2 linked regions of the Homo sapiens genome follow. The protein of the gene in region 2 purifies or fractionates together with the protein of the main gene of each other region. This does not show direct contact. Each region holds a gene or a part of one and is shown on either strand. Other genes may lie near its edges.

The links.
Region 1: the proteins of ACO1 (region 2) and FBXL5 purify together in Homo sapiens (affinity purification with western blotting; 3 studies listed by BioGRID, with this or other methods). This does not show direct contact.

What each region holds. Positions count from the first base shown.
Region 1 is NC_000004.12:15,653,571-15,657,487, forward strand, and holds the start of FBXL5 (F-box/LRR-repeat protein 5), read right to left. Parts: upstream 1,788-3,917; 5' UTR 1,718-1,787; coding exon 1,634-1,717; intron 1-1,633.
Region 2 is NC_000009.12:32,429,551-32,433,467, reverse strand, and holds part of ACO1 (cytoplasmic aconitate hydratase), read right to left. Parts: intron 3,051-3,917; coding exon 2,894-3,050; intron 1,750-2,893; coding exon 1,625-1,749; intron 1-1,624. UniProt on the Homo sapiens protein: Bifunctional iron sensor that switches between 2 activities depending on iron availability. Iron deprivation, promotes its mRNA binding activity through which it regulates the expression of genes involved in iron uptake, sequestration and utilization.

The sequences.
Region 1 (3,917 bases), on a different chromosome or scaffold from region 2:
CTCCACAGTCTAAAGTGGAGAGAAAACCTTGGATTCTGTTAGTCTTCACTTCCACTTTCGATTTTTGAGACCATTTTTTTTTTCTTTCCTGCTATTAAAGAATGGTGTCTGAATGAACGATATTCAAAAGCCAGAGAGGATAAAAACACTATAATACTGCTAAGTAAAAAATTCAGGGATATACCCTCTTGCTTAATGGCTTAACCATTCCTCATGCTTCTCCTAGATGAGTGGTTCTCACCCTCAGCTGCATACTGCACTCAAATGGAGAGCTTTAATCATTTATACCTGATGTCTGGGTGAAATCCTAATTTTAGTGACCTAGACATCAGGACTTCTAATAGTTTTTAGTTTAAGGCTAATAAGCAACCAAGGTTGCAAACCATTGTCCTAGACAGTCCTGGTGTTTCCAACTCATGTGAACTGGGTGTTTCTAAATTTTCAGAATGGAGGGAGGGAGAAGATGGAGTGCTAAGATTTGAAATTCAACGTCACTGCTTTAAATTGCTGGTCTTGAGTGTGGCCTAACAGTGAATACCCTGGGCATCCTCCAATCGCCTGGCTGAGCTATGAAACACCCCTCTTTTCTGTAGACAATGGTTCTGCATAATGCTATGCAATTTCTGAGAATTCCTAAAAGTTGATTTCTATGCTTAAACAGTAGTCATTTGAATGCTTTATTTAGTTGGATCATTTCCACAAGAAACGGGACTGCCTGAGGTTTGCAGATATCCATGACTTTCCCCAACATAAACTGACAAATACGTGGAATGTTAATATTGTTTTAAAATCACTAGCAAAGGGCCCTGAACCATCTCCACAAAAGTGCCTCTTCAGCTTATGCTGCACCAATTATGGGCCCAAAATGGTTCTCACAGTTAAACCAACTTTTCCTGAGGCCCCCTTTATTCGAGCTCATATAAAGAAATCCAAGAGAGAATTGCTGTCTTATAACAAAATCTACATCCAGTAAGTGTTCAGGGCAATAAAAGTTGCAAGGAAAACGATAACGACACATGAAGAGTGAAGGTTCTTCAGTTCTAAACTTGGCTTTTCTCCCAAATCAAACCAGTGAAGAAAGCCGGGGGTAAAAGGAACCGGGTAGCTGGGAGACGCTGCAGTTCCAGCCAGGAAGCCAGCGAGAGGTGCAGAGGATGGGTGGGTGTCTGCACGGAGAGCCCCGAACAGGCCCGGGGGAGTGACGGGGGACGGGAACAACTACTCGGTGCAGATGGGAGTCCACCGCAGGTGGCCGGCCGGGGCACCCAGGGCTTCGAGGAGGTAGGGCCGCTCTCCTTAGAGGCAGCAGCGGGAGTCCCAGCGCGGCGGTGGGGCCGGCCCGAGGGCGGCCAGTGACGCCGGTAGCGCCCCTCCTCAGCCGCCAGGCCCTCGGCAGGGGACGCCGCCCGCCCCGAGAGCACGTCCGAGGCGGCGGCCAGGCCGGCTCTGCGAAGGCCTCGCAGCGGGCGGGCAGGCTGCGGGAGCGGGCGGCGCTGACAGCTGCGCAGGCGGCTACTCGCGCGGCGACGGCACGGGGCTGCGGGCGCGGCGCAGGCCAGGCCGCCCCAAGAACCCAGCCCGCTCCCCATCGCCGCCCGCACCGCCCACAGCGGGAGGCTCAGCGCTCCGTTACCTTGTCGCAGTAGAGCCCCACCAGCTGCTTCATCCGCCAGTGTGGGGCGGTGAAGACGTCCACTTCTTCAGGAAAGGGCGCCATCGCCACTGCCTCAGCCTCCGCCTCAGCAGCCGCGGCCGCCGCCTCTCCATAGACACCCTCGCCGCGGGGCAGAGGCGGCGCGCCCCCTTGCGCATGCGCCCGCCCCGTCGGCGCGCGCGCCCGGTCGGCTTGGCCGGCGGGGACGCGGGGGCGCGCAGGCCGCCGCCATGCGATCCCTGCGGCCCACGTGACCGGGCGCGCGCAGAGGCTCGCGGCTTCTGCCTCCCGCCCCCACTCTTTTCGTTTTTTGTCGTCTTCATAAGCCGCAGAAGGAACCCAAACCTTTTCCCTGTTTCTTTCACTACATGAAAGCACAGTAGCTGAGGGTAGGGGAAAGTCGTTGCAGTGGCGCTCTCGGCGCTTCTCCCGTTGCTGCCCTGCCCACCACGGCCTTGAGGAGAGGCAGCCAAGCACAATGGCCGCGGTCAGGGCCGCGAGCTCTGCTTGTGCCCACGCCCCGACGCCTGCTTGGCCTGGGTGACCAATGCTTCTGGCCAGGACCTCCGGAGCTGCCCTTCGCCTCCCTGCGATTGGCCCGTGCCAGATTTTTCCTGGGGCCGAGCGCAGACCACCCCGGCCGCCACTCAAAGGCCGGGCCTGGCTCCCACCCAGCGGTTGGTGAACCAGAGCTGCGGGCTCTGAGAGCTTCGGTCCCGGGCGGCAGCCCACAGCGGGCGCGGGGCCTGGGTGCGAGGGGCGGGGCAGAGACCGCGAGAGAGAGTTCTCGTGAAATTCGGGAGACTCAACGTGGGGGAAAAACAGTATCTGGGGATCCAGGTGCGGAAATGCACCTCAAGTGCAGGAACGCGGGTCAGGGATAGGCCCGACGGGCCTTGGGGGTGGGGAGAAGGGTGAATAATGGAAGGTTGGTGCGGGAAAGAACCTTGGTACAAATCCCGCCATTTTAAGCGGAGGTTCGGAGAGAAAACAAGGTCACTAACCCAGGAAAATGTCTGCCTCTTTCCCATAAATCGCCTGGCCCTGGCCACAGACCTCCTGGAGACTCTGTTCTCTGCTCACGCCGGTCAGTCTTAGATTGGTTGGCTGGAGTACTGCTGGACAGATAGAGAAATAGGAGAAAACAGGGAAGCCTGAGAACCTTGGGAGGAATTGTTATTTGCTTAATGGCCAGAACCTCCAGGAGGGCAAGAACCAGATATGCTGTGTTCACCCTTGTTCTCTATTATCTATCACAGTTGCAAGACAACATGGGGATCAGTAAATAGTCAACAAATAATGGAGTAGAAGAAGGTGAGAAAGAACTTTGCAGTGGAATGCACCCTATTTAGTTCTAATCTTATATTACTATATGCTATTATAGACAGTGTGAACAGTGGTTAAACCACAGACTCTGGAAGTTAAGATTCCTGGTTTTGCCAGACACTAGCTATACAACCGTTAACAAGCTATATGACTTCTTTATGCCTCAGTTTGCTCTGACATGAAATGAAGCTAATAATACCTACCTCAGAATCTTTATGAGGATTTATATATTTGAAGCACTTATAACAGTACCGTCTGTAAGCTAGTAATACTTTTTTAAAGCAACTCTATGAGGTAGTGCTGCAGGAAATTAAGTCTTCAAGACATTCTAGTAGTTGCCTAGGGTCCCACAAATTAGTAAGTCAAAAATCTGTCATATAAATCTGGATCTGACAGTACCCCCAGAGTCATTGCATTAGTTGGGATACAGAGATGGCTTATTCACAGTCTGTCTTAAGAAGCAGGAATAAGGCTTAAGAAATAGAATAATAATAAAATATTTGATAAAGATTAATTTCTCTCTTCCTCCTTCTCCCTTTCACCCCGTTTCTCGTTCTTTTGCCAGGACTTTGCCTCTATATTTTTTAATAACCTCCAGAGAGCATTTTCTTATTTACCCTCTATTTCTTTACCTCATACTAATCTTTCACTCCAGCTATCTTGGAATGCAGAATCAGACCTCAGGTGAACCAGTTATATAGAGAAATGAGCTCCATGAGAACATGCACTTTGTTTTATCCTCAGCACTTAGAATGATGTCTGTCATAAAGTGAGTATTCAGTAAATATGTTGGAAAAAAGAATGAGGGTAGTTCATAGCACTGTGTAATTTCCTCATTTTTACTAATGTTTAATATGCTATGTTGTCTTGTCCAATCAACTGTTTGTGTCTGTGCTGTTCACTAGTGTATCCATCTGTAGAACCAGACACATTAAAA
Region 2 (3,917 bases):
GCCCAGCAGCTCAAGACCAGCCTGGGCAAGATGGCAAAACCATGTCTCTACAAAAATAAAAAAAAAATTGTCTGGGTGTGGTGGCATGTGCCTGTAGTCCGAGCTACTCGAGAGGCTGAGATGGGAGGATTGCTTGAGCTCAGGAATTTGAGGTGGCAGTGAGCTATGATGACACTACTGCACTCCAGCCTGGGTGACAAAGCAAGACCTGGTCTCTGAAAAACAAACAACAACATACATATGCACCGTGATAGGCAGCTTCTAGGATGGCAGGAGGGATCCTGCCTCCTGGGATTCACATCCTTAGTTGACCCCCTCCTGTTGAGTGTGGGCTGAAGCTAGTGACTATCTCCTAGATTAGATTATTGAGACCTGCCTTCTGACTCTCTTGCTCTCTTGCTCTGATGGAAGCCAGCTACCATGTGTGAGTCATGAAGAGACCCTCATAGCAAGGTGCTGAGGGAGGCTTCTAGCGAACAGCCAGTGAGAAACGGAGGACCTCAGTGCAACAGCCCTTGAGGAACTTGATCCTGCCAATAGCCACATGAGTGAGCCTAAGTGGACCCTCCTCCAGAGACTGCAGCCCCAGATGACATCTTACTGGAACCCTGTGAAAGTACACAGTGAAGCTGTGCCTGGATTCTTGACCCACAGAAAATGGGAGACAATATATGTTTGTTGTTTCAACTCACTATATCTATTGCTATATCACAGCAATAGATAACTAATGCATATGCTTATCAATAACTTATGAAATAATAATCCAGATTGTACCAAAGGGGAAATTACTCTCTGAGTGTTTTGGGAAGTGGCCTTCCAGGTCACACAAACACTGGGTAGCAAATGACAGCTGCTATGCATTAAAATTGGTTTGAATTCTGTCCACAGGTCCATTAACTCGGCCTTTGGAGGAAGGCATTTAACATAATGCCTGCCAAGCTCCCTAACACCATCTCCCAAGGAGCACCTTGTGAAGAGTGCAGCGTGTGAACATCACACCTACATCACCCCTTCCCCTAGACAGTTCTACCCTCATTTAAACCATCAGCCGCAGTCAGAAGCCCTTGGGTCAGCTGAATGCAGAAGGCGGGGAAAGGAATAATATCCAAGAGTCTCAGAATATAATGCTGAGCCCCACACATTTCCTCCTATTTGTAAAATGCACGGAAAGTTTTATTTCAGTAGTTTGGCACTTCCTACTGAGTGGCCTTAATTTCTTTATTTTTAAGTGTGCAAAAATGCATTCTGAGAGGTGCATTCGACCAATGGACTCCACTTAGTGACACAATATAGTGACCACCAGGGGTCCTCGCCACAGCTGACACACACCCCTGGGTGTCCGAGAAAGGCGTGGGGTTTTGGAGAGCTGAACCTGAGGAGGCCTTTCTTCTCTAGGCTGTCACCAACTTGTCCAAATCTGGGAACATCTGGGGGAGGTGGGGTTTGTAAAAATGCGAGTCACAGGAGAAAAATGACGGAGAACCACCTCCCCAGTCATCTGAAGAAATAAATGTTACTTTATATAGTTTATACTTCCGTTAGCCTTGAGGTCTGCAGACAGGACACAAAGGGAGCAGCTTTCCCTTAGATCCTCTGGGGCGGGGAGGGCAGTGTGGGACCTCACCTCTATTTTCTGATAGACTTCCTTAAACATCCCCGGGATGACATACTGACGCTCCACTGCCTGGATCTCGTCTCTAGTCGGCCAGATATCTTTCAGAAATACCTGCTGTCCCTTTGCATTTACTCCTGGGGAAAAAATGTTTATTAATGAGAAAACTTTCTAATATGCAATTTTCATGATTATACAGAGTCAAGCCTCGTTCTCCTCGGTAGTTATGTTCTATAAAGCCCGTGTGAACACTGAATGACTGGATACGGAATCACTGCCACTGGAGGAAATACAGGGTTAGGTTCCTGCAAGCCTCTGGTCACCCATCAATACATAACCTTGCTTCATGTGAGGTTTATTATTCACCTTATTTAATAGCAATTGTTGACTCACTGACATTGAACTTCCAGCGAAGCCTATCTAAACACAGTACGCATCACAGTCGGCTTGTGCTCAAGAACACCAGAAGCACTTCAGGACTATGCTCAAGGACCATTTTGAACAGCAAAATCACCACAAAAAGCACAAAAATGCAAAAAGCATGGCACTACGTAGACCAAGAAAAGGATCCTTATATATCGCAGGAGAGCTGAAACAAGAAGTCAGAGTGACGCCTTATCAGATCTCAGCATAGAACGTGTGTGTTGAATGATATAAAGTTTTCACCCCTTTGTGCTGATCTGTGAATGACCGTGAACATACTACAAATACTGATTTGGGGGTTAAAATACATTTTAGTGACTACGCAAATCTGCAAACATAGAACTCACAAATAACGAGGATCAACTGTACGTCTAAAGTTATGATTTCCTAAAAGTAAATTTCAGAGGCATTGTTTTCATATTATCTATTCGGCTTAGAATAGATTGAGGCAGGCAGAGCAAGCAAGCTGATCTGGGGAAAGGAAATGATGTATCATTTCTTTGGAATTCTGAGAAGTTGAAATATCTGCAGTATGTTTCTACAGAGTATATATTGAAACAATGCCTATCATTAAAGTGAGAGCTAGAAAGGGAGGAACTACAGAAGAAACCAGAATAGCAAGATGTCTATTCCTTTTGGCACCTGTTTTCCTTTCGTTATCCTTTACCCTCAGTAGATTCTTGTTTTAACTACTGCAGTTAAGTCTTAGCTGTATATTGGGGAATAAAGAAATTATTCTCTTCTTTGTCTTATCCCTGGAGGCTCTATGCTTCATTTCTTATTAAGGAAAGCAGTTTCTTCTAGTAATATTTCTGAATTCACTGGAAAAAAATTATGGCTGCACAAACAAAATCTTACCCAATGGCTCTTTCTCAAAGTCGATTCTGATGGTTCCAGCAATTGCATATGCTATTACTAAGGGGGGAGAGGCTAAATAGTTGGCCCGGGTGTTGGGGTGAACTCGACCTTCAAAATTCCTGTTTCCAGATAGTACTCCAACAGCTACAAGGTCTCCCTGAGTAAGGCAAGAGAAAAATCAGGTCACTAAAAGATACTGACTAGGCTTCTTGTCTCAGACCATTGGCAAGAGTTTCCACATCGCAAGGATACAGTCCTTTAAGCTGCCCTTTCACTTGGTTCTCTCCCACTAGAGGGGAGAAGGGTACACTGGGGTGTCCCCATGGGAGATACTCTGGGTCAAAGGAAGCAGAGACATGTTTAGTGATTTCTGCTCACGAGAAAATATCAGGTAGTTAGAAGGCAACATACTAGTTATTGCTGCCTGGGGCCCAAGAACAGGTGGGAAAGACCTAACAGTTGATCGTTAAAGGAAGTCACAATGCACAATTATAGAATACGTAGATTCTATAATTAATGCAAAGCAAACCAAATAATATCTTTCAAGGTTCAGCATTTTGGGGATAAAAATCAAGCCAAAGCAATTTAGTTTAGATTCGTTTGTGTGGAGACTTGTCTCACTTTGAACCAATTTTCAAATTATTTGGGTTGGTGCAAAAGTAATTGTGGTCTTCATCACTGAAATGGCAAAAATCACAGTTACTTTTGCACTAACCCAATACCTATAACAAACAACTGTAGAGCCCTTTGTAGTGAAAACCAGCCAGTACTGAGCACTTGAGTGCCAGACACTGCACTAAGTGACTTATGTTTATCATCATCTTAATTCTCACAACTCTATAAAATAGATACTATTATCATCTCCAATATACAGTTGTGAAAACCCAGGCACAGATAGGTTAATTAACTTGCCCAAGGTTACCCAGCTAGTAATTTTAACTAAACTCAAAAGATCATACTCTAAACCACATCCCCTGCTTCCATGGACCTTCTTGAAAATATCAGCATTTTTGTCACATTACAT